Linked DNA regions of Homo sapiens. The protein of the gene in region 1 purifies or fractionates together with the protein of each later gene. This does not show direct contact. Each region holds a gene or a part of one and is shown in the gene's direction. Other genes may lie near its edges. The genes, in order: ANKMY2, PBDC1, AARS1, KLHL26, PLD2, ARIH1 and TXNDC5.

Region 1 (3,500 bases):
AATTTTTATTTTATAGTTGAAGAAAGGCCATAAGCAAAGTTTATATTTGTGCCAAAAAGAGGCATTTTTTTTAAAGTGGGTGAAGTGAGTTTTTTTTTTTTTCTTTCATACGTTTTTCAACTTTGAAAAACTCTAGATGAGACAATAAGTTCTAGTACTTTGAACTAACAACTTTTCAGCAAAGTCTAGCCTGGCATCTTGGTCAATCTGAAATAAACTCGGCAAATATTTAAGTGATTCCCATCTGCCAGCCACTGCTCTCCAGAAAGACAGACTCTAAGTGGGGCTTTTTATTTATTAGAATGCCAAGAAGTTCCAGATGAAAATGAAAATCTGTTTCCAACATACCCATTTAAATCATAGTTAATGACAGCATTCATTTAACAGTATGTAAGAGGAAATTGAAATCACTGAACTGTGTTTAACTGGCTTATATGACTTGTAGAGTTACCCATTCTTCTAAGCTTTGATACCTTTTTCATTAATCTCAGAGCAAGCACTATTATGAAATAAATTAAACCTTTTTTAAGGCTATGAGCTAGATAATTTTCACATTACTTCTCTTATTTAGTACCTGAAATTCCTGGGCTTACTGTTGCTAACAAGAAAGTATTATACTTCCTTTTTTTTTTTCATATCTGTGTAAAGGAGCTATGAAACAAGTTTGGATAATAAGGCTTTTTCTTACCAACTATTGAGATACAATAAATTGCACATATTACAGGTAGTACACACTTTTTAATCAGTTTTGATTTAAACATACATCTGTGAAACCATCAGTAAGATCAACATAATGAACATCTTCATCACCCCCTAAAAAGTCCTTATGCCTCTTTGTGATCTGTCACTAACTTCACCCCCATCTGCAGGCAACCACTAACAGATCTCTGCCTCTGTTGATTAGATTTCTCTATTCTAGAATTTTATATTAGTAGAATCATACAATAAGTATCCTTTTTTTGAGGGGGGGCTGGCTTCTTTCATTCAACATTATGATTTTGGGGTTCATATTTATTATGTGTACCAATAGTATGTAGCTTATTTTCTTCTTTTATTTCCAGTGGAAGGATATACTACTATTTGTGCATCCATTCCCATTGATGCCCAATTGTTGTTTCCAATTTGGGACTATTGAAATAAGATCCTGTTCTAAGGTCCTGTGTCGTTAATAATACTTCTGGTGTCTTTATGGTTGAGAAACATTCAAGTCTGCTTATAACCAATTATAGTACAGAGTTCAAAGAAAAAATTAAAATATATGGTTACCATTAGTTGGATGGCTGGACAGGTTATGCAACCTATATGGGCTTCATTGTCTTCATTTTCACAGCAACAGCTCTTTTAGATACTCCCAATTTTATACAGTGCTCTGTAATACTAATTTAAGATCATTTTTTTACAAAGTCTAAAAATAGATATGAGTAGGAGACCTTTTAGAAACATCGCACAAATTCACGATTTCAAAATGCATGTTATAATTAGAAGTCTCCACTATGTGTGTGTGTGTGTGTGTCTGTGTGTGAGACAGGGTCTCACCCTGTCACCCAGGCTGGAATGCAATGGTGCGCTCTCGGCTCACTGCAACCTCTGCCTCCCAAGTTCAAGCAATTCTCCTGCCTCAGCCTACTGAGTAGCTGGGATTACAGGCGTGCACCACCGCGCCCGGCTAATTTTTGTCTTTTTAGTAGAGATGGGGTTTCACTTTTAAAATATATTTATAGCTTTATATCTATGATTATATCAAAATCTATATCCATATGTTCTTGTTTTAAAATTAAGGCACTTTAAACATTTTTACATGATTTTACTTATACGTAAACACTATAACAACTAACAAAGCCAAATAGATTTCTAAATCCTTAACTTGATTATATATTCCTTAAAATATCCGTTTTCGTGGCTTCCAATAAATAATGATTGCAATCCAGCTGGACATAGTGGCTCATGCCTGTAGAGTGACCCCTCTGCACTTTGGGAGGATCCAAGAGGATCACTTGGACCCAGGAGTTTGCCACCAGCCTGGGTCTCAATATAGTGAGACCCCGTTGTTACAAAAAATGTAAAAATTAGCTGGGTGCGGTGGCGTGCACCTGTAGTCCTAGCACCTCAAGAGTCTGAGGCAGGAGGATTGCTTGAACCCAGGAATTCAAGGCTGCAGTGAGCCATGATCATGCCACTGCACTCCAGCTTGGGCGATGGAGGAAGGCCCTGTATCTATAAAAAATTAAAACAATAATAATGAATAACGATTGAAATCTATACGTGTTTGAATCTCATGGTTGTGTGATGAATTGCTGAAAACAGAATGTTTGTTTCTCCTGTTCTGTTTGTTTTGGCTGCATCTTCTTGTCTTTGGTAGAGACCCGTGTTCCCGATCTAGATATTAGAAATGTTACAATGAATTATATTGTGCTGCTCTGAATACAAAATAAAAAGAAGATCTAATAAAGGCTTATATGTGCTCCACATTAGGACACTCCTCAGATAACTGTGGGATGGATATTGTTATCCTTATTTCATAGATAAGGAAACTGAGAGTTTTACAGGTCTTTTTATTTACTTTTATTTATTTATTTACTTATTTTTTTGAGACAGAGTCTCGCTCTTGTCGCCCAAGCTGGAGTGCAGTGGCGCGATCTTGACTCACTGCAACCTCCTCCTCCTGGGTTCAAGCAATTCTCCTGTCTCAACCTCCTGAGTAGCTAGGACTACGAGCACGCACCACTACACCTGGCTAATTTTTGTATTTTTTTTTTTAGTAGAGATGGGGTTTCACCATGTTGGCCAGGCTGGTCTCAAACTCCTGACCTCAGGTGATCCATCCGCCTTGGCCTCCCAAAGTGCTGTGATTACAGGTGTGAGCCACCATGCCTGGCCAAGTTTTGCAGGTCTTGTTCCACTTTATAGTATTCCTGAAAAAGCTATAATGTAGTAGAAGAGAGAGCAGTAACACTAAGAATATCATTCTCTTTTGAGACAGGGTCTCACTTTATTGCCTAGGCTGGATTACAGTGGCATGATCATAGCTCACTGCAGCCTCAACTTCCTGGGCTCAAGCAATCCTCCCACCTCAGCCTCCTGAGTAGCTGGGACTACAGGTCCATGCCACCACACCTTGCTAATTTTTTAGAAAATTTTTTGTAGAGATGGGGTCTCACTATGTTGTCCATGCTGGGAAAATATTATGTACATAATCTTTTCTCTCCTAAAATGCTTGTTCATCCAGATAAAGTGATCAATTCCACCCTAATGAGGCAGGTTATGCTGTATTTTCTTCTTTGGTTTGAGCAGTTGGAGGAATTCTCTAAAGGGAAATAAATCACTAATTATTACTTTAATTAGTTTAGGTCTGTTGTTTCTTATCTCCAATGAAGGTAAATGTTGGCTCCTTGCACATCCCTTCTTATAGTACTCTATCTTCCACCCCCAGCAGTTTGTTAAATCAGATTTAACATATTTATTTCCCAGAATAAAGCAATTAATCTTTTACACTTACTTGT
Region 2 (2,753 bases), on another chromosome or scaffold:
TAGGAAAAAAATGTTTTCCTTGAGAGTAAACCCTTGGCTAATGAAGAATCTAAAGTTTTTGTTTGTTTGTTTGTTTTGTTTTGTTTTTTGTTTTTTGGTTTTTTTTTTTTGATACAGGGTCTCACTCTGTTGCCCAGGCTGGAGTGCGGTGGTGCCATCTCAGCTCACTGCAACCTCCGCCTCTCAAGCTCAAACAGTCCTCCTGCTTCAGCCTCCCTAGTAGGTGGGACTGCAGGTGCATGCTACCATGCCCAGCTAATATTTTGTATTTTTGGTAGAGACAGGGTTTCACCATGTTGACCAGGCTGGTCTTAAACTCCTGAGCTCAAGCGATCCGCCCGCCTCGGTCTTTCAAAGTGCTGGGATTGCAGGCGTGAGCCACCACACCCAGCCAAGAAACTACACTTTTAACTCCTAGCAGGCAGTTAGTGATCTTTGTCTTTGGAAAACTGTCACTACTGAATGGACTTCTTTATTAAAATCATTTGTGTTTTAGTGGGGATAGATGACCATTTTGGGCTGAACTGACCAATAACTTCAAAACAAAACAATTGACTTAAGAAATAATATTTTAATTCTGCAGTAAAGGATTTATATATTTTTCAGAGTAAAATATTGTTCATCTTGGGAAATGGCAGTCTAAAGACACAATAGGTAGCACAGAAACGCATTGCTAGTTTCACTGTGAAACCAACAATCACCTCAATCCCAGTCTCACTATGATTATTTTCCTTACTGGGAAAATGGAAGTCCCTCTCCTGGCCTTAGTACGTCAGCCTCTTGCATTTGTCAGCTAAAGCATCGTTTTTGCCTTTATAGAAGTGGAGGCCATTCTGCTTGAAGTTTAATGGGATTGTTGAAGACTTCAACTATGGTACTTTGCTGCGACTAGATTGTTCTCAGGGCTACACTGAGGAAAACACCATCTTTGGTGAGTTTCTTCCCTCTGGAATTGTTTCTGTGTAAGGAGACTGAACAGTCTGGCTTTACTGATGAATCAGTGATGTGTATAGTTAGGTCACCTTATCTTGTTTCATCTTTAAAGATCTTGTTGCTATTTTTATGTAACTTGAAGATAGTTAAGTATTTTCAATCTCATTAATATGAGATTGGAATTAAAGATCTCTGAAGTTTATGACTATACTGGAATGGTTTGCATGTTATTTCAATTTTGTCAGTAGATTTCCAGCATATTTAGGGAACAGGCCAGGCACAGTGTCTCATGCCTTGTAATACCAGCACTTTGGGAGGCTGACATGGGAGGATCACTTGAGCTGAGGATTTTGAGACCAGCCTGGGCAACATAGGGAGACCCCATCTCTACAAAAATGTTTAAAAAATTAGCCAGGTATAGTGGTGAGTGTTTGTAGTTCCAGCTATTCAGGAGATTGAGGCAGGAGGATTGCTTGAACCAGGGAAATTGAGGCTGCAGTAAGCTGTGATTGTGCCACTGCAGTCCAGCCCTGGTCATCAGAGTGAGACCCTGTCTCAAAAAAAAGAGATTTAGGGAATAAGCTGAGAGTAGGATGATAATCAATTCTGTTCACTTTTCAGCCCCCAGGATACAATTCTTTGCCATTGAAATTGCTCGGAACCGGGAAGGCTATAACAAAGCTGTTTATATCAGTGTTCAGGACAAAGAAGGAGAGAAAGGAGTCAACAATGGAGGAGAAAAAAGAGCTGACAGTGGAGAAGAAGAGAACACCAAGAATGGAGGAGAGAAAGGAGCTGATAGTGGAGAAGAAAAAGAGGAAGGAATCAACAGAGAAGACAAAACTGACAAAGGAGGAGAAAAAGGGAAAGAAGCTGACAAAGAAATCAACAAAAGTGGTGAAAAAGCTATGTAAGGTATACAGGGAACAGCACTCTAGAAGCTATGACTCAATTGAGACTACAAGTACCACGGTGCTACTTGCACAGACCCCTTTGGTTAAATGTAAATTCTTGTACAATTGAAGGATACGCAGAAGGACATCTTTCTAGTCTAACAGTCAGGAGCTGCTCTGGTCATTCCCTTGTATGAACTGGTCTAAAGACTGTTAGTGGGGTGTTAGTTGATTTTTCCTGGTATACTGTTTCTTGGCTGACACTACTGGTCAAGTAAGAAATTTGTAAATAAATTTCTTTTGGTTCTTATTATCTATATCTGTGACTGACTTTAAAAAGGTATTTGACACTTGAAATTTTTTTCAAATATGTAATCTCATCACCATGTCTTATATAAGATAATTTACTCCTGTTTCTTACTGCTTCTCACTGTTTCCTGTAGTGAAGTTCTCTAAACTTGTTAAGTTATACCTGGTGTTGGGATTAGAAGTCCTTACATAAGAATTGACTCTTAATCTCTGAGTGACTATAACTCCCTGATTTCTTTGCTATATATGACAAAATATTTGATAAATAGCAGCAACCTGAACCTGTCAAACTAGTGAATGCAGCCCAGTTCATATTAGAAGAGCAAGAGACTGGACATGCTTCAGTATTTGCTTTTCTTTTGGTAGCCAGAATGTTACCTGAAAGCTAGCAAAAAAAAAAAAAAAAAAAAGGGAAAACCAGACAGAGTAGCTACCCCCTTTTTTTTTTTTTTGGAGATGGAGTCTTACTCTGACTCCCAGGCTGGAGTGTAGTGGCACAATCTTGGCTCACTGCAACCTTGGCCTCCTGGGTTCAAGTGATTCTCCTGCCTCAGCCTCCCAAGTAGCTGGGACTACAGGTGCGTGCCACCATGCCCAGCTAATTTTTTGTATTTTTAG
Region 3 (3,500 bases), on another chromosome or scaffold:
AACACCTTCCAACCCAGCACCACTTGGCTGCAGACTGAGCATGAGTTTCCTTCCATTAAAGTCTTTGAAGTGCTTTTTCCCCTAGATCAGTGGTTCTCAAGTGGGGGCGAGTCTGCCTTCCAGGGAGTAATTGGCGATAATGTCTGAAGACATTTTTGATTTTCACAACTAGGGGCAGATCCTGCTGTCACGTACTTGGTAGAGGCCAGGGTGCCCCTCAGCATCCCACACTGCAAGAGAAGTTTCCACAACAGAGAATGATCTGGCCCCAAATGTCAGTAGTGCCAGGATTGAAAAACCCTGTTCTGGCAGTTTATGCTGGGCATAGTTTAGCAAGTTCCAGTCCTTTGGAGTCCCTTTTCTCCTACTTTACGGTAACTTATGCTTGTTTCTCTTGCTGACAGCTGAAATCACAGGGCAAGGGAGCTGGTGGGGAAGACCTCATTATGCTGGACATTTACGCTATCGAAGAGCTCCGGGCACGGGGTCTGGAGGTCACAGATGATTCCCCAAAGTACAATTACCATTTGGACTCCAGTGGTAGCTATGGTATGTTGCTGTGCTCCTTCCACATCTGAGCATTCTGCCCCGTATCTGGGGGGTATTTGAAAGATTGTTTCTCAAGATTAGCTCTCCAGCAGACTGCTGACAGCCTCTCCTGGAGTGCCGTACAGTCACGCTATGCACTTTTATACACATAGGCACCCTTGGCTGGAGGTTTTCTTAACTCTATTTTGAAATAATTATTGTCACAGGAAGTTGTAAAAAAAAAAAATTTGTAGGAAGGGTCTCACACCCTTTTATCCAGTTTCCCCTAATTGTAACATCATGCAGGAAACTGGGCAATTGACATTGATACAATCCACAGTGACTATCAGAATGCTATTAGGGGCCTGGCGCTGTGCCTCACACCTGTAATCCCAACACTTTGGGAGGCCGGGGCAGGTGGATCACCTAAGGTCAGGAGTTTGAGACCAGCCTGACCAACATGATGAAACCCCATCTCTACTAAAAATACGGAAATTAGCCGGGCGTGGTGGCGTGCCCCTGTAATCCCAGCTACTCGGGAGGCTGAGGCAGGAGAATCGCCTGAACCTGGGAGGCAGAGGTTGCAGTGAGCCAAGATCATGCCATTGCACTCCAGCCTGGACAACAAGAGTGAAATTCCGTCTCGGGGAAAAAGAAAAAGAATGCTATTAGGATTCTATTATCCTAATGCTGTTAGAATGCTATTATCCTAATAGCATTCTTTTTTTTTTCTGAGATGGAATCTCCCTCTGTTGCCCAGGCTGGAGTGCAATAGTGTGATCTCGGCTCACTGCAACCTCCACCTCCTGGGTTCAAGCGATTCTCCGGCCTCAGCCTCCCAAGTAGCTGGGATTACAGCCACGCACCACCACACCCGGCTGATTTTTGTGTTTTTAGTAGAGACAGGGTTTCACCATGTTTGCCAGGCAGGTCTCAAACTCCTGACCTCATGATCTGCCTGCCTTGGCCTCCCAAAGTGCTGGGATTACAGGCGTAAGCCATCTCGCCCGACCGGATAATAGTATTCTAAAGTTAAGAAACAAAGCCAGTGCAATGACTCATGCCTGTAATCCCAGCACTTCGGGATGCCAGGGTGGGCTGATCAGTTGAGCTCTGGTGTTTGAGACCAGTCTGGGCAACATGGCGAAACCCTGTCTCTACCAGAAATACAAAAATTAGCTAGGTGTGGTGGCGCATGCCTGTAGTCCCAGCTATTTGTGGGGCTGAGGCAGGAGGATCACTTGAGCCTGGGAGATTGAGAGGCTGCAGTCAGCCATATTTGTGCCACTGCACTCCAGCCTGGGCTACAGAGTGAGACCCTGTCTCAAAAAAAACATAAAAATAAATTGGCAATACATGTTTTTGCAGCTTTTTTGCCCTGGTAGAGAACAATCTTTTTTTTTTTTTTGAGATGGAGTTTCGCTCTGTCACCCAGGCTGGAGTGCAGTGGCGCATTCTCGGCTCACTGCAACTTCTGCCTCCCAGCTTGAAGTGATTCTCCTGCCTCAGCCTCCCAATTAACTGGGATTACAGGCATGTGCCACCACACCTGGCTAATTTTTGTATTGTAGTGGACACGGGGTTTCACCGTGTTGGCCAGGCTGGTCTCAAACTGCTGAGCTCAGGTTATCCACCCGTCTCAGCCTCACAAAGTGCCAGGATGACAGGTGTGAGCCACCGTGCCCGGCTGAGAACAATCTTACACCTAAATCTATTCAAGCAAGCCTACAAAATGAGTACATTCTTTGTGAGTTGACCTTGGACTAGGGAATTTATTACTACTCTTAAAGATCTACTAATCTGATGCACCAAGTTTCTGTTCAGTAGCTCAGAGTTAGGGTAACCCATTGTCCCAGTTTTAACACTGAAGCCTGCATCCCAGGAAACCCCTCAGTCCTAAAAATTGGGACAGTTGGTCACCCGACAGAGTGTTGCATTCTTTGATGGAAAGCCAGCATGCGAAGCCCTTTGTTGTTGTTGTTTTTTTTTTTTTTTTTTTTTTTTTTTTTTTGAGACCGAGTCTTGCTTTGTCACCCAGGCTGGAGTGGAGTGGCACAATCTCGGCTCACTGCAAGCTCCGCCTCCTGGGTTCACGCCATTCTTCTGCCTCAGCCTCCTGAGTAGCTGGGACTACAGGTGCCCGCCACCACACCCGGCTAATGTTTTGTATTTTTGGTAGAGACAGGGTTTCAGCGTGTTAGCCAGGATGGTCTCGATCTCTTGACCCCGTGATCCGCCTGCCTCGACCTCCCAAAGTGCTGGGATTATAGGGGGAGCCACCGCGCCCGGCCGCGAAGCCCTTTCATATTGTCTAATGAGTTTGCTTCCAAAATACAATTGGACAATTAGGAGCTAAGAAGAGTTTGCGAAAGAGAATCCAGCAAAAGTCAGCCAAGAAGGAGTGAAAAGGTCATTGACCCCACTGTCCCCTTTCTATGCATTTCCCTTGAGCAGTATTTGAGAACACAGTGGCTACGGTGATGGCTCTGCGCAGGGAGAAGATGTTCGTGGAAGAGGTGTCCACAGGCCAGGAGTGTGGAGTGGTGCTGGACAAGACCTGTTTCTATGCTGAGCAAGGAGGCCAGATCTATGACGAAGGCTACCTGGTGAAGGTGGATGACAGCAGTGAAGATGTGAGCCAACAGTTCTTCCTTGTTAGCCGAGGAGGGCCAGGCGTGGAGCCGGGGAGCTGCTTTTGCCCCACAGTGCTCCAGGCCTTGGGAGCAGACCTGACACACCTTTGGGTTGGGTTCCATGGTATTTCTGAAGCCGAGGGAGCTGTTGCTTGTACCTGTTGCTTTCCTGGCCATCGGGTACCCTCGTAGGAGTATTTTTGCAGCCAGGGTACAAGTTTCCTACAAGCTTTGCACATTAAAAAGGAGAGGCAGCTCTCTGAAGGGGAGATGTCCTTGTAGAAAACTCAGCCTCGAGCTCTGCCGCTGCTGAATGAGTTACTTTGTCTCCCTAGGCTT
Region 4 (3,500 bases), on another chromosome or scaffold:
ACTGTGTCCGTCCATACAATCTCGTATGGACGGACACAGTTTGTTTATCCATTAACTGGTTGATGGACTGTTGGGTTGTTTCCATTTTGACAACTGCAAATAAAGTTGCTGTGAACATCTGGATATGTGTCTCTGTGTGGACGTATATTTTCATCCTCTTGGGTAAATACTTAAGAGTAGAATGACTAGTTCATATGGTAGATGTGTTTAAATTTCTTTTTTTTTGAGACAGGGTCTCACTCTGTTGCCCAGGCTGAAGTGCAGTGGTGCAATCACGGCTTACTGTAGCCTCTACCTCCTTGGGCTCAGGTGATCCTCCCACCTCAGCCTTCCAAGTAGCTGGTAGGTACTACAAGGGCGTATGCCACCACACCCAGCTATTTTTTCTGTGCTTTTGTTGAGACAAAGTCTTGCCATGTTGCCCAGGCTGGTCTTGAATTCCAGGGCTCAAGCAATCTTCCCACCTCTGCCTCCCAAAGTGCTGGGATTACAGGTGTGAGCCACTACGCCTGGCTATGTTTTAATTTTTTTTTTTTTTTTTTTTTTTTTGAGATGGAGTCTCTCTCTGTTGCCCAGCAGTTGTTCACTGCAACCTCTGTCTCCTGGGTTCAAGTGATTCTCCTGCTTCAGCCTCCTGAGTAGCTGGGATTGTAAGGATGCGCCACCACACTCAGCTAATTTTTGTATTTTTAGTAGAGACGGGGTTTTGCCATGTTGGCCAGACTGGTCTTGAACTCCTGACCTCAGGGGATCCGCCTGCTTCGGCCTCCCAAAGTGCTGGGATTACAGGTGTGAGCCACTGAGACTGGCCATGTTTTAATTTTTAGGAAACTGCCAAGCTTGTTCCCAAAGTGGCTGTACCATTTTGCATCCCCACCAGCAATGTTCAAGAGTTCCAGCTCCTCCTCATCCTCACTAACACCTGGTATGGCCAGTCCTTAGTTTTAGCCATTCTTATAGGTGTGTGCTGGTGTCTTCATTTGGTGTTTTTATTTATTTATTTATTTGTGAGATGAGGTCTCACTCTGTCGCCCAGGCTGGAGTGCGATGGTGCGATCCTAGCTCACTGCACCCTGGAACTCCTGGGTTCAAGCAATCTTCGGGCCTCAGCCTCTGGAATAAGTGGGATTACAGGTGTGCACACCACTGTTCCCAGTCTTATTTTGGTTTTAATTTGCATTTCTCTAATAACTAATGATGTTGGACAGTTTTTCATGAGCTTCTTAGCTATTCATCTCTTTGGTAACGTGTCTTTTCAAATGTTTGGGCCATTTTTAAGTTGGGTTGCCTTTTTTTTTTTTTTTTTTTTAAGACTGAGTCTCGCTTTGTTGCCCAGGCTGGAGTGCAGTGGTGCGATCCTAGCTCATTGTAACCTCCACCTCTTGGGTTCAAGCGATTTTCATGTCTCAGCCTCCCGAGTAGCTGGGATTACAGGTGCATGCTACCACACCCGGCTAATTTTTGTATTTTTAGTGGAGACGGGGTTTCACCATGTTGGCTAGACTGGTCTCAAACTCCTGACCTCAGGTGATCTGCCTGCCTCAGGCTCCCAAAGTGCTGGGATTAGAGGCATGAGCCACCACACCCGGCTCTTTTTCTTTTTTCTTTTTTTTTTTTTTGAGATGGAGGCTTGCTCTGTTGCCCAGGCTAGAGTGCAGTGGCGTGATCTTGGCTCACTGCAACCTCTGCCTCCCAGGTTCAAGCAATTCTCCTGCCCCAGCCTCCCGAGTAGCTGGGATTACAGGCGTGTGCCACCACACCCGGCTAATTTTTGTATTTTTAGTAGAGACGGGGTTTCTCCATGTTGGTCAGGCTGGTCTCGATCTCTTGACCTTGTGATCTGCCCGCCTCAGCCTCCCAAAGTGCTGGGATTACGGCGTGAGCCACCATGCCCGGCCCTCTTTCTTAAAAGACATCTTTGTCATTCTCCCCTATCCTCCATCCTAGTGAAAAATCACTGTTTGGAGCAACTGATAGGGGCATCTCATGCCTCAGGTGCTAGTGTGGGGAGAACCCCTAATGTGGCAAGATGGAGCATGCAGAAAATGGATCATATTTTGAGGGAGATTGGTACAAGACATTCTCCCAAAAGTCATTTTGAGACATTGAGTCTTTGTAGCATTGTTCGTCTGTTCCTTCATTTATTGCAAATGGGACAGCCAGGCCTGGAGCACGACCCACCTCCTCGCCTCAACCTGCCCACGTCTCCTTCCTCTTCATCCTTCCACTCTCCAAGGTTCTGGCCCCTCAGAGCCACCTGCCTGACCATGCAAGCTCAAGTAGTCCCCAGGACACTTTTGCTAGTCACCTAGTGTGTGTGTGTGTGTGTGTGTGTGTGTGTGTGTGTGTGTGTGTTTGAGATGGAGTTTCGCTTTTGTTGCCCAGGCTGGAGTGCAGTGGCATGGTCACTGCAACCTCCACCTCCCGGGCTCAAGCAACTGATTCTCTTACCTCAGCCTCCCGAGTAGCTGGGATTACGGGCGCCTGCCACCAAGCCTGGCTAATTTTGTATTTTTAGTAGAGGTGGGGTTTCTCCATGTTGGCCAGGCTGGTCTGGAACTCCTGACCTCAGGTGATCTGCCTGCCTGGGCCTCCCAAAGTGCTGGGATTACAGGCGTGAGCCACTGCGCCCGGCTTGTGGTTTTTTGTTTGTTTGTTTGGTTTGGTTTGAGGAAGAGTCTCACTCTGTCGCCCATGCTGGCATGCAGTGTCGTAGCTACCTGCAGCCTTCTTGACCTCCTGGGCTCAAGCTATCCTTCTGCTTCAGCCTCCCGAGTAGCTGGGACTACAGGCATCTACTAACACACCTAATTTTTTTTTTTTTGAGACATTGTCTCATTCTGTCGCCCAGGCTAGAGTGCAGTGGCACAATCTGGACTCACTGCAACCTCCACCTCCTGGGTTTAAGCGATTCTCCTGCCTCAGCCTCCTGAGTAGCTGGGATTACCAGTGCACGCCACCACGCCCAAATAATTTTTGTATTTTTAATAGAGACGGGGTTTCACCATGTTGGCCAGGGTGGTCTTGATCTCCTGACCTCGTGATCCACCTGCCTTGGCCTCCCAAAGTGTTGGGATTACAGGCGTGAGCCACTGTGCCTAGCCCACACCTGACTAATTTTTAAAAATTGTTTTGGGCCGGGCGCGGTGGCTCATGCCTGTAATCCTAGGACTTTGGGAGGCCGAGGTGGGCAGATCACTTGAGGTCAGGAGTTTGAGACCAGCCTAGCCAACATGGTGAAACCGCTTCTCTACTAAAAATACAAAAATTAGCCAGGATTGGTGGCACGTGCCTGTAATCCCAGCTACTCGGGAGGCTGAGGCAAGAGAATCACTTGAACCCGGGAGGCAGAGGTTGCAGTGAGCTGAGATCGCTCCACTGCGCTCCCACCTGGGCGAGAGAACCAGACTGTCTTAAAAAATATATATATTATTTTATAGAGATGGGGTCTTATTATTATTTTTTTTTGAGATAGAGTTTTGCTCTTGTTGTCCAGGCTA
Region 5 (3,500 bases), on another chromosome or scaffold:
ATAGTTTTGAACCAGGAACTGGTCTAGCCAGATGCTTGGGACTGCTCTTAGACTGGGCCCAGAGAAAGGGGATTAGTAGAAGCCTGGGAAGGGAACTGCTGACATAAACGAAATTCCATTTGTTCATTTGTTCATTCAACAAACCCGAGTGCCTGGTACAATACTGGTTGCTGATGCAATACTAGGATCCAACTATGAGTAAGGTGGATATGGCCGGGCGCGGTGGCTCACACCTACAATCCCAGCACTTTGGGAGGCCGAGGCGGGTGGATCACCTGAGGTCAGGAGTTCGAGACCAGCCCAGCCAACATGCTAAAACCTTGTCTCTACTAAAAATACAAAAATTAGCCGGGCGTGGTGGTGCGTGCCTGTAATCCCAGCTATTTGGGAGGCTGAGGCAGGAGAATCGCTTGAAGCTGGGGTGCAGAGGTTGCAGTGAGCAGAGATCGCACCACTGCACTCCAGCCTGGGGGACAAGAGCTAAACTCTGTCTCAAAAATAAATAAATAAATAAGGCAGATACATACACGCCCTATCCCTGTGCAGTTGTGATTAGGGACTAAGGGAGGAAGTGGGAAAGGGGAGGTCTCTAGGCAAGATCACAGGTATGGAGGGCGAGGATTTATGGACATCTCATCGTTCCCATCCAGGTCCTTGATTCTCAAGTGCAGCAGCTACCGGCAGGCACGGTGGTGGGCCCAAGAGATCACTGAGCTGGCACAGGGCCCAGGCAGAGACTTCCTACAGCTGCACCGGCATGACAGCTACGCCCCACCCCGGCCTGGGACCTTGGCCCGGTGGTGAGACACTGACATCCCTTCTGAGCTTGTCTGTGGCTTTCTTGACCCCCTGTGTAATCTCTGAGTCCTTCATCCTCTCTTTTCTCATCTGAACCCTCCTGACCTCAATGACCCGCCCCGTGACTTCTTTAATCTTCCTGACCTTTGACATCTTTAACCACATTGATCTCTCTGATTTCGCGCCGACCTTTCTGACCCCCAAACTTGGTCATCTCTTCTGACCCTTGACCTCTCTAACCTCCTATAACCTTTTAAACCCCTCTCTACAATACTGACCCTCTCTGTTCTCCATGATCTTCTCAAATCTCTCTGATTTAGTCCTTCATTTAATAAACATTTTCTTTTCTTTTTTTTTTTTTTTTTTTTTGAGAGAGAGTTTTGTTCTGTTGATCTCGGCTCACTGCAACCTCCGCCTCCCAGGTTCAAGCGATTCTTCTGCCTCAGCCTCCCGAGTAGCCGGGATTACAGGCGCCCACCACCACACCTGGCTAATTTTTGTATTTTTAGTAGAGACGGGGGTTTCACCATGTTGGCCAGGCTCTTCTCGAACTCCTGACCTCGGGTGATCCGCCCGCCTCGGCCTCCCGAAGTGCTGGGATTACAGGCGTGAGCCACCGTGCCCAGCCTTAATAAACATTTTTCTAAGCACCTAGCAGTGCTGGCAGTAACACACAGTCCTCTCTGGGTTAGGGAAGTAGGTGATCAAATCGTGAAACAATGTGAACTTGCCGTACTGGTGATAGGTAGAAGGTGACACGCACAGACAGGAAGTACCTGGCCCAGCAGGGATATCAGGACAGGTTTCCAGGAGGTGGTGACCCTCAGGTAGTTTTGCTTTAAATCAGAGACTGACACAATATTAATTTTGTTGGTTTTTGTTGGAGACAGTGTCTTGCTCTGTCACCAGGCGTGTAGTGCAGTAGTGTGATCATGGCTCACGGCAACTTCAACCTCCCAGGCTCAAATCATCCTCCTGCCTCAGCCTCCCAAGTAGCTGAGACTACAGACACATGCCACCACACCCGGCTAATTAAAAACATTTTTTTTTACAAAAAATTTTAAAAATTAGACGGGTGTGGTCTCGAACTCCTGGGCTCAAGGGATCATCCTGCCTCGGCCTCCCCAAAGTGCTGGATTGCAGGCATGAGCGACAGTGCCTGGCCTATATACTTTTTTTTTTTTAAGGCAGAGTTTCGCTCTTGTTGCCCAGGCTAGCGTGCAGTGGCACAATCTCAGCTCACTGCAACCTCAGCCTCCCAGGTTCAAGGGATTCTCCTGCCTCAGCCTCCCAAGTAGCTGGGATCACAGGTGCATGCCACCACACCCAGCTAATTTTTGTTTTGGTTTTTTTTTTTTTTTTTTGAGATGGAGTCTGTCTCTGTCACCAGGCTGGAGTGCAGTGGCAGGATCCCACCTCACTGCAACCTCTGACTCCCCGGTTCAAGTGATTCTTCTGCCTCAGCCTCCTGAGTAGCTAGGATTACAGGCATATGCCACCATGTCCAGCTAATTTTTGTATTTTTAGTAGAGCCAGGGTTTCACCATGTTGGCCAGGATGGTCTCGATCTCCTGACTTCGTGATCTGCCCACCTCGGCCTCCCAAAGTGCTGGGATTACAGGCTTGAGCCACTGCACCTGGCTATAAACTTCTAAAACAGCCAAAACCAATCCACAGTGATGGAAATCAGATCAGCAGTTGCCTGTGGCAGGGTATGGGGAAATGATTGCCTATAGTGGGGCACACGAGGGAACATTCCAGGACGATAAAAATGTCCTATATTTTGATAGGACTGGTGATTGCGTGGGAACATACACTTGCTGATCCTCATGGAACTATACAAGATAAAGAAAATGCAGAACAGTCCAGGCACAGAAGACAGAAATAGCTCAGGGTGTTTGGGAACCACCAGGACATATTGTTGTTACTGAGTGAGGAGGAGCAGTCAGAGGAGAAGCTGGGAGTCAGTGGCACCTGATCTCACAGGGTCCCATGTGCTAATATCACAGGCACACAGGGCAGTCATGGAAGGAAGTTTTGTTTGTTCGTTTGTTTTGTTTTGGTTTGGTTTGGTTTTTGAGATGGAGTCTGGCTCTGTCGCCCAAGCTGGAGTGCAGTGGCGCGATACCAGCTCACTGCAGTCTCTGCCCCCTGGGTTCAAGCGATTCTCCTGCCTCGGCCTCCTGAGTAGCTGGGATTACAGGCGTGCACCACTATGCTCAGCTGATTTTTGTATTTTTAGTAGAGATAGGATTTCACCATGTTGGCCAGGCTGGTCACGAACTCCTGACCTTAAGTGATCCACCCGCTTCGGCTTCCCAAAGGGCTGGGATTACAGGCATGAGCCACCTTGCCCAGCCTTCCTGCATATTTTCACATGTGCATGCACGTGTTACTTTTGTTTCAACATAAATGAGATCATGCAACCTCTTCTGTGACTTATTTTTTCACTTAATACCTGTGTGAGAGATTAGACACTTATATTATTTCCCATTTTTCACTCTTACAAACAATGTGATGAACACAACATTTGCCTAGGCATTGTATTAGATGTATTCCTAGACATGTAATTACCATGTATATTTAATGATATTAAAGGGTATATGCATTTAATATTTTGATACTGCTGACCAGTCGCTTTGGCTCATGCCTGTAATCCCAGCACTTTGGGAGGCCGAGGCGGGTAGATCATTGGGGTCAGG
Region 6 (3,500 bases), on another chromosome or scaffold:
TCTGGGATCACAGTGAGCCACCTTGCCCGGCCTTGTTTTGTTTTTAATCTGGGACTGAAAATGAGGGAGTTGAAATACTAGGTTGGTCCTTTTTTACATTAAGTGTTTTATTCGTTTAACATCATTTTAAAAACCTCAGTTAATTGGAGATGTTCATTTTTTCCAAGAAATTGAATTCAGGTGTGCATATTGTGGTTATGTTCATTAATTGGGAGAGGAGGAAGAGGGTGTACAAGCCTGTGCATGATGTGTGCAGGCACATGTGTTTTGAAGTTATTAAAGTGTTTGATATAGTTTAGATTTATTTCTTTTGGACTTTTATATTTTCCCAGCTGATCTCCTTGAGCTGTAAGTTTAAATTACACTGACTTGTTGAATTGCTATGGCAGTAGTCCTATGAATCAAACTCTGGGGATGGGGTCTGGCTGTCTGTTTTAACAAGCCTTCTAGGTGATGGTGATGCAAGCTAAAGTTTGAGAACTGCTGATGTAGTTGAAATTTAATAGCAGTGTTTCTCTATGTGTTACGTGTAGTGATAGATTACTACAGAGGTGGGTTAATGAGGGAAGATAAATTGTTTAAGAAACTAATAATAGGGGACCAGTCACGGTGGCTCACACCTGTAATCCCAGCACTTTGGGGACTGTGCCAGGCAGATCACTTGAGGTCAGGAGTTTGAGACCAGCCTGGCCAATATGGTGAAACACTAGCTGGGCGTGGTGGCCTGTGCCTGTAATCCCAGCTACTTGGGAGACTTGAGGCAGGAGAATTGCTTGAACCTGGGAATTGGAGGTTGCAGTGAGCTGAGATAGTGTCACTGCACTCTAGCCTGGGTGACAGAGGGAGACTCTACTTCAAAAAAAAGGTAATAATGGGAAAATTTCCAGAACCTAGGCAACGTTTACTAGGCTAATCATAGGGTTGGAAGATGTTTGTCATCGTAGATGCTATCCTTCATGCTATGCTATCCTTCAGCTAAGGTGGTCTTTACTCAGTATTTTCTTTTCTTTTCTTTTCTTTTTTGGAGACAGAGTCTTTTCTCTCTTGCCCAGGCTGGGGTGCAGTGGCGCCATCTCGGCTCACTGCAACCTTCGCCTGCTGGGTTCAAGCGATTCTCCTCCTTCAGCCTCCCGAGTAGCTGGGATTACAGGCGCCCACCACTACGCCCGGCTAATTTTGTATTTTTGGTAGAGACGGGGTTTCACCATGTTGGCCAGGCTGATCTCGAACTCCTGACCTCAGGTGATCCACCCGACTTGGCCTCCCAAAGTGCTGGGATTACAGGCATGAGCCACTGCACCCGGCCAGTATTTTCAAATAGACAAACTAAACTAGTGACATCTGACATTCTAGATTGGAGTTCTTGATTTCCCTTCCAGTCCTAGATTTTTTTAATATAGAATGTTGAGTTTTCTAATTTATTAGTATGCTGGAAGAGATATAAAGTCCTGGATAGATATAAAGTCCTGTTTAAAGGAATATGAGAAGACTTATTCTTAAGGAGTTGAGAATCTCTTAGAGTTAAAGCTGTTAGGTTAGTGAGTAATTTAAATAAGTGGATAGTAATAGATACTCATGGAAGAGACCTCTGTAGGTGTTGTCAAAGATGGCTAGGATTTGGGTGGATAAAAAAGAGGAAGTCATTCTAAGGAACTGAATGAGGTGAGAATGAGGAGAGTTTTTGGGTAATGGTGAAATCAGCTAAAGTAGAATGGAGCTTATAAATGCTGGATAATAATGTAGAACCTGGGAGATTAAATACTGTGATGAAAGGTAAGCAGAAGTCATCACATTAGATTCTTTTGGGGTTGACCTGTGGTAACTATGTAGATTGGTTATCTTTTGCCTTATGTTACCCCAAAACTTAGTGGCTTAAAAAAACAAGGATCTGTTATATCATAGTTTCTGTGAGTCACAATTCTGGATGCAGCTTACCTGGGGGCCTCTGGCTTATGGTCTCTTACAAGGCTGCAACCAAGGTGACGGCTTGGTAGCAGTTCTCTCTCTCTCTTTTTTTTTTTTTTTTTTAAAGACAGAGGCTTGCTGTGGTGCCCAGGCTGGAGTGCAATGGCATAATCTCGGCTCATTGCAACCCTCACCTCTTGAGTCCAAGTGATCCTCTTACCTCAGCCTCCTGAGTAGTTGGGACTATAGATGTGCACCACCACACCCCAGCTTATTTTTTTGTTTTTGTGGGTTTTTTGGTAGAGACCAGTATTTTTTTGTTTTGCCATGTTGCCTAGGCTGCTCTTGAACACCTTAATTCAAGGGATCTGCCCGCCTTAGCCTCCTAAAGTGCTGGGATTACAGGCATGAGCCACCGTGTCTGGCCTGGGTAGCAGTCCTCAAGGCTTGACTGGGGAAGCTTCCCCTTCCGAGCTCACTCATTTGGCTGTGACCAGGCCAGATTTTCACTGGCTGGTTGTTGCCCAGAGATATCAGTTCCTTGCCATGTGGGCCTCTCCATAAAGTGGCTGACAACACAGTAGCTTGTTTCCTCCAGAGTGAGGGATCTTAGAGAAAAGGCCCATACGATGGAAGCCACAAAGTTTTTATAACTTAATTTCAGAAGTAACGTCGCATCACTTTGCAATATTCTATTTGTTGTAAGTGAATAACCAAATCCAGCCCATACTCAATCGGAGGGGATTATACAAAGATGTGAAGACCAGGAGGCAGGGGTCTTTGGGGGCTATCTTAGAGGCCGGCTGTTTGTCTCTGTCTCTCTCTGTTAAGAGGTAAATTACAGCTATTGTATAATGCCTTTCTATCCAATCTTTTTGTATGCTATTGGGAGAACATAGTGTTTTGGATTTTTTATTTTGGATTAACCGTAAATTAATTACTTTTGGCTTTGCAAAACATTATACCTGTAAATGATAAACATTCCTAATAACCTTTCAGTGGCTTAAGTTTAAAATAGCTTGTAGTCTCAGAATTGGTAGGAATTTGAGATTCTCCAGTTTACTGATTTTTTTTTTTTTTAACTCTAGCTACGTAATGGAATCACCTGGGGATTTTTTTCATTACTGTTTTTAAAATAGAAAATTGTAGATTCACAGCCGGGCATGGTGGCTCACGCCTGTAATCCCAGCACTTTGGGAGGCCGAGGCAGGCGGATCACCTGAAGTCAGGAGTTCGAGACCAGCCTGGCCAAATGGCGAAACCCCGTCTCTACTAAAAAAATACAAAAATTAGCCGGGCATGGTGGTGGGCGCCTGTAATCCCAGCTACTCGGGAGGCTGAGGCAGGAGAATCACTTGAACCCAGGAGACAGAGGTTGCAGTGAGCCAAGATTATGCCATTGCACTCCAGCCTGGGCAACAAGAGTGAAACTCCATCAAAAAAAAAAAAAAAAAAGAAGAAAAGAAAAGAAAATTGTAGATTCACATGCAGTTACAAGAAATAATGCAAAAATCCCACATATTCTTTTTTCCAAAAAATTTTATTTCCCTAGGTTATTGGGGAAGAGGTGGTATTTGGTTACATAAGTAAATTCT
Region 7 (3,500 bases), on another chromosome or scaffold:
TGCCTGCTGGGAGTCAGAGCCCCTCCCCCACCACACTTACTGTCCACAGTAACTTATCGTGAGGCCTTCAGCCTTTTCCCACTTTTGCTAAAAGTTATTTCATCCATACCAGCGCCCTGACGGCAGAACTCTAGCATGCTTTCCGCTACGGGAATGCATTTTCAGCTGGGATTGTCTTGGGCTCTGAGCAGGGTGTGTTTCCCAAATCACCTGTTACGGACCGACTCCGGCAGGACAGACCGACTCCGGCAGGCCTAGCCAGCGCCTCCCTAAGTGGGTCACTGCCACACAGCTGTGTCGTGTAGGTACCATGGTGGCTTCCTGCCCTTGCTGGCTTCCCATCAGTACTCTGATTAGGTTCCCAGAGAGCCTGTCTCCACCTTACAGTGCAGGATCTACTGTGCACCTGCACATGGTTTCAGCTTTGCACATTTTTTAATGGAAGTTGTTAACTTTTAAAGGAAGTTTTTCACCATTTTCTTCAAGTGCATTGTTGCTGTGCTGATGAGACAGTAGCTGTGAGCCTTAGTGTGGCAGAGTCCTGCTCAGACGCCAGGCCACATGCCACTGGTTAGTTCTCTCCCCGGCCACAGCCTGCTTTCAGTTTGGTATCAGCCCAATGTCAGGGTAGAACAGCTAAACACCTTCTGTGTCCAAATAATGATGCTGTGAGGGTTTGTTTGTTTTTTTCCCCGTAGCCAAGGGGGTGATGTTTCATTTTTTAAACTTTTTTTTATGATAAAATATAATACAGATCGAGAAAACAAATGTAGGGCTTAATGAATTTTTATAGCGTGGTCACACTGTAACTACTGTCCAGTTCAAGAAATAAAACTGCCAGCTTCCCGTGTCCCATGCAGGGCACAGCCCGCCCTCCCTTCTCCAAGAAGGCACTTGCCTGACATTTGTGGAAACCACTTGTATTAGTCCGTTTTCACTGCTGATGAATACACACCCGAGACTGGGCAATTTACAAAGGAAAGAGGTTTAATGGAGAACTCACAGTTCCACGTGGCTGGCGAAGCCTCACAATCATGGTGGAAGGCAAGGAGGAGCAAGTCACATCTTATATGGATATCAGCAGGCAAAAAGAGCTTGTGTAGGGAAACTCCCGTTTTTAAAACCATCAGATCTCATGAGACTTATTCACTATCACGAGACCAGCATGGGAAAGACCTGTCCCCGTGACTCAGTTACCTCCTACCTGGTCCCTCCCACGACATGTGGGAATTCAAGATGAGATTTGGGTGGGGACACAGCCAAACCATATCAACTCCTTTATGTGCACTGAAGTGCACATTCCTGAGCACTATAGTTCTATATGTGTATGTGTTTATATATCTTTTAAGGCTCTTTTAACCTGCATGTTCTCCAGACATCTCTTTATCTTTCTTGCTGAAGACATAGGTGGTTTGACCTGTAGAGCTCCCCGTGGTCCAGACTTTGCTAATTGTGTCCCCGTAGTGTGGTCTACATGTTTCCCTGATTTCTCTGTTTCCTGGAAATTGGTAGTTGGGTCTGGGGACAAAATCAGTTTCAGTGTGATGTTTTTTGGGGGCACAAGAAGACCTCATAGCTGGTGGGGGCACAGAACGTCCAGTTGTCTCTCTTTGGGATGTGGTCGACCATGACAGGCAGAGCCTGGGTCCGTCCATTCCTTAGGGCTGCCAAGTGCCGAGGCTCATTCAAGCGTCCCTTCATTTTTTAACCAAGAGAAACTCACCCTCATTTATCACCTGGTTATTCAGCGGTACAGTGCATATAGGAGAGGTGGGAGAAATGCCTGATTCTTTCCTTTTATTACAGTTTTCCAAATAATGAGTTGATTGCTGATTGTCCATCAAAGATGACAAATTTGGTTTTGAGTATTGTTATGAAGTCATGAACAGAAACACATTTGATGGAGTCCCTTTGTACCAATTAAAGTGCTCATGCCGAACTAAGATTTGCTAAGCAGGACAAAGATCTGATTCTTCAATTAACTCTCTAGTGAGGTCTGACATAAATTACAGTTCCTCTTTCCCCCGTCTCTGCCTTGGCTCTCCACTCCAGGCGACCACTTTATCAAGTTCTTCGCTCCGTGGTGTGGTCACTGCAAAGCCCTGGCTCCAACCTGGGAGCAGCTGGCTCTGGGCCTTGAACATTCCGAAACTGTCAAGATTGGCAAGGTGAGTGAAAGCCCTTATTAAACTGGAAATGGACTGCTTTGGGCTGGATTAATTAGCAGAGTGGCCCATTATTCATTCCGTGTGCAAAGTCGCAAACTTGATTTATTAATTCCATTTAGTGTGCCACTTGATAATTCATTTCACCTTCACAGATGGCAGTCTGATTTTGAGTTTTGCTGGCTTTTCCACAGCCTAGAGATAAATTATGGCCTCGGCTGCTTTGTTTATTTTGAAGAGATGGCCAAATCTGAATTGGCAGCCCCAGAGCCCGTTCTGCAAAGAGATGGGGTAGAGCCTTGTAGAATGTTCACTGGACGAACTTGGAGACCGTCCACGTTCGACCTCACCCAAGAGCTCTCTCTAAAAGGACCCTGGCTCTGTGCTCCCCCAAGCACGCAGAAGACCCTCCCTCAGTTTGCACTGTGCCTGGGATTCTTTCCAGCATTTCCTACTTTATACAGAGAAGCCAAGAGTGGTGTCTGACAACTTCTGTGTAACTGGATTTTCTGGAAATATCCAGTGTAGCTCCAGGGACATCACTTTTATTCTTCTACACTTTCCAGCACCCACCAGACACCATGCATAGATTTCCTTTCTTAAAAATCTCATTTTTCTACCTTGCCATGGGGCTGATTTGTATCCAAAAGTAATGCTGCGTGTCTAGGACTGAATGATGGTTAACAGGATGATCTACTTGGGATGGTGAGATGGTCAAAAGCATAAACTTGGGGGTTGGGTAGACCTGGCTGGCTGACCTTGGGAAAAACCTCTCCACGCCTCGGTCTCCCCCTTTGCAAAACTGAGCTAAGATCTACTGTGTGGTGTCTGGGCAGATGAAAGTACACTGCTTAGTGTGATGCTTAGCATGGGGCAGATGCTTGGTAAATTGTAATCACTTTTGTTGTCAGTTAAATGGATATTTCACTGTTGCCTCTTAAACGCTTACGATAATATATACTAATTATACATGTTATTATCAGTTTATATTTATTGAACATTTCGGGGAAGTAATTATAAAATAATCTTGTCTACTGTCTTACCCCATTCCTTGTATCCTTACTTAATTATTGTATGAAATTTTATGGGAGATTCTTTTAGGTTTATATCCATAGAGGATCCTAGCAGACCTAGGCGTGAGCAGACACAAGCCCAGGTGACCACGCTGAAGCCCTTCATCCCTGGCACATGTGGCTGGGTTACACTGGACCCTTAAAAATGCTTGTCCTCTCCCGACCTTGGGCTGAGGCCTCTTGTACTTCAGTTCCGCACCTTAGCTGCTCTCTGACGGGTCTTAGGTGTTGAAATAGTATTTTTACCCCCGTTTGCTGACAT

The links.
Region 2: the proteins of ANKMY2 (region 1) and PBDC1 fractionate together in Homo sapiens (co-fractionation; one large-scale study listed by BioGRID). This does not show direct contact.
Region 3: the proteins of ANKMY2 (region 1) and AARS1 fractionate together in Homo sapiens (co-fractionation; one large-scale study listed by BioGRID). This does not show direct contact.
Region 4: the proteins of ANKMY2 (region 1) and KLHL26 purify together in Homo sapiens (affinity purification with mass spectrometry; 2 studies listed by BioGRID and IntAct, with this or other methods). This does not show direct contact.
Region 5: the proteins of ANKMY2 (region 1) and PLD2 purify together in Homo sapiens (affinity purification with western blotting; one study listed by BioGRID). This does not show direct contact.
Region 6: the proteins of ANKMY2 (region 1) and ARIH1 fractionate together in Homo sapiens (co-fractionation; one large-scale study listed by BioGRID). This does not show direct contact.
Region 7: the proteins of ANKMY2 (region 1) and TXNDC5 fractionate together in Homo sapiens (co-fractionation; one large-scale study listed by BioGRID). This does not show direct contact.

The regions. Positions count from the first base shown.
Region 1 is NC_000007.14:16,639,255-16,642,754, reverse strand, and holds part of ANKMY2 (ankyrin repeat and MYND domain-containing protein 2), read left to right. Parts: intron 1-3,500. UniProt on the Homo sapiens protein: May be involved in the trafficking of signaling proteins to the cilia.
Region 2 is NC_000023.11:76,176,062-76,178,814, forward strand, and holds the end of PBDC1 (protein PBDC1), read left to right. Parts: intron 1-819; coding exon 820-931; intron 932-1,554; coding exon 1,555-1,847; coding exon of another isoform or gene 1,848-1,956; 3' UTR 1,957-2,253; downstream 2,254-2,753.
Region 3 is NC_000016.10:70,262,007-70,265,506, reverse strand, and holds part of AARS1 (alanine--tRNA ligase, cytoplasmic), read left to right. Parts: intron 1-404; coding exon 405-549; intron 550-2,982; coding exon 2,983-3,161; intron 3,162-3,500. UniProt on the Homo sapiens protein: Catalyzes the attachment of alanine to tRNA(Ala) in a two-step reaction: alanine is first activated by ATP to form Ala-AMP and then transferred to the acceptor end of tRNA(Ala). Also edits incorrectly charged tRNA(Ala) via its editing domain.
Region 4 is NC_000019.10:18,640,028-18,643,527, forward strand, and holds part of KLHL26 (kelch-like protein 26), read left to right. Parts: intron 1-3,500. UniProt on the Homo sapiens protein: May play a role in endo(sarco)plasmic reticulum (ER/SR) mitochondrial signaling. May be part of the ubiquitin-proteasome system (UPS) and affect ubiquitination and degradation of target substrates in cardiomyocytes.
Region 5 is NC_000017.11:4,810,152-4,813,651, forward strand, and holds part of PLD2 (phospholipase D2), read left to right. Parts: intron 1-650; coding exon 651-800; intron 801-3,500.
Region 6 is NC_000015.10:72,480,830-72,484,329, forward strand, and holds part of ARIH1 (E3 ubiquitin-protein ligase ARIH1), read left to right. Parts: intron 1-3,500. UniProt on the Homo sapiens protein: E3 ubiquitin-protein ligase, which catalyzes ubiquitination of target proteins together with ubiquitin-conjugating enzyme E2 UBE2L3.
Region 7 is NC_000006.12:7,890,289-7,893,788, reverse strand, and holds part of TXNDC5 (thioredoxin domain-containing protein 5 isoform 1 precursor), read left to right. Parts: intron 1-2,052; coding exon 2,053-2,168; intron 2,169-3,500. UniProt on the Homo sapiens protein: Protein disulfide isomerase of the endoplasmic reticulum lumen involved in the formation of disulfide bonds in proteins. Can reduce insulin disulfide bonds.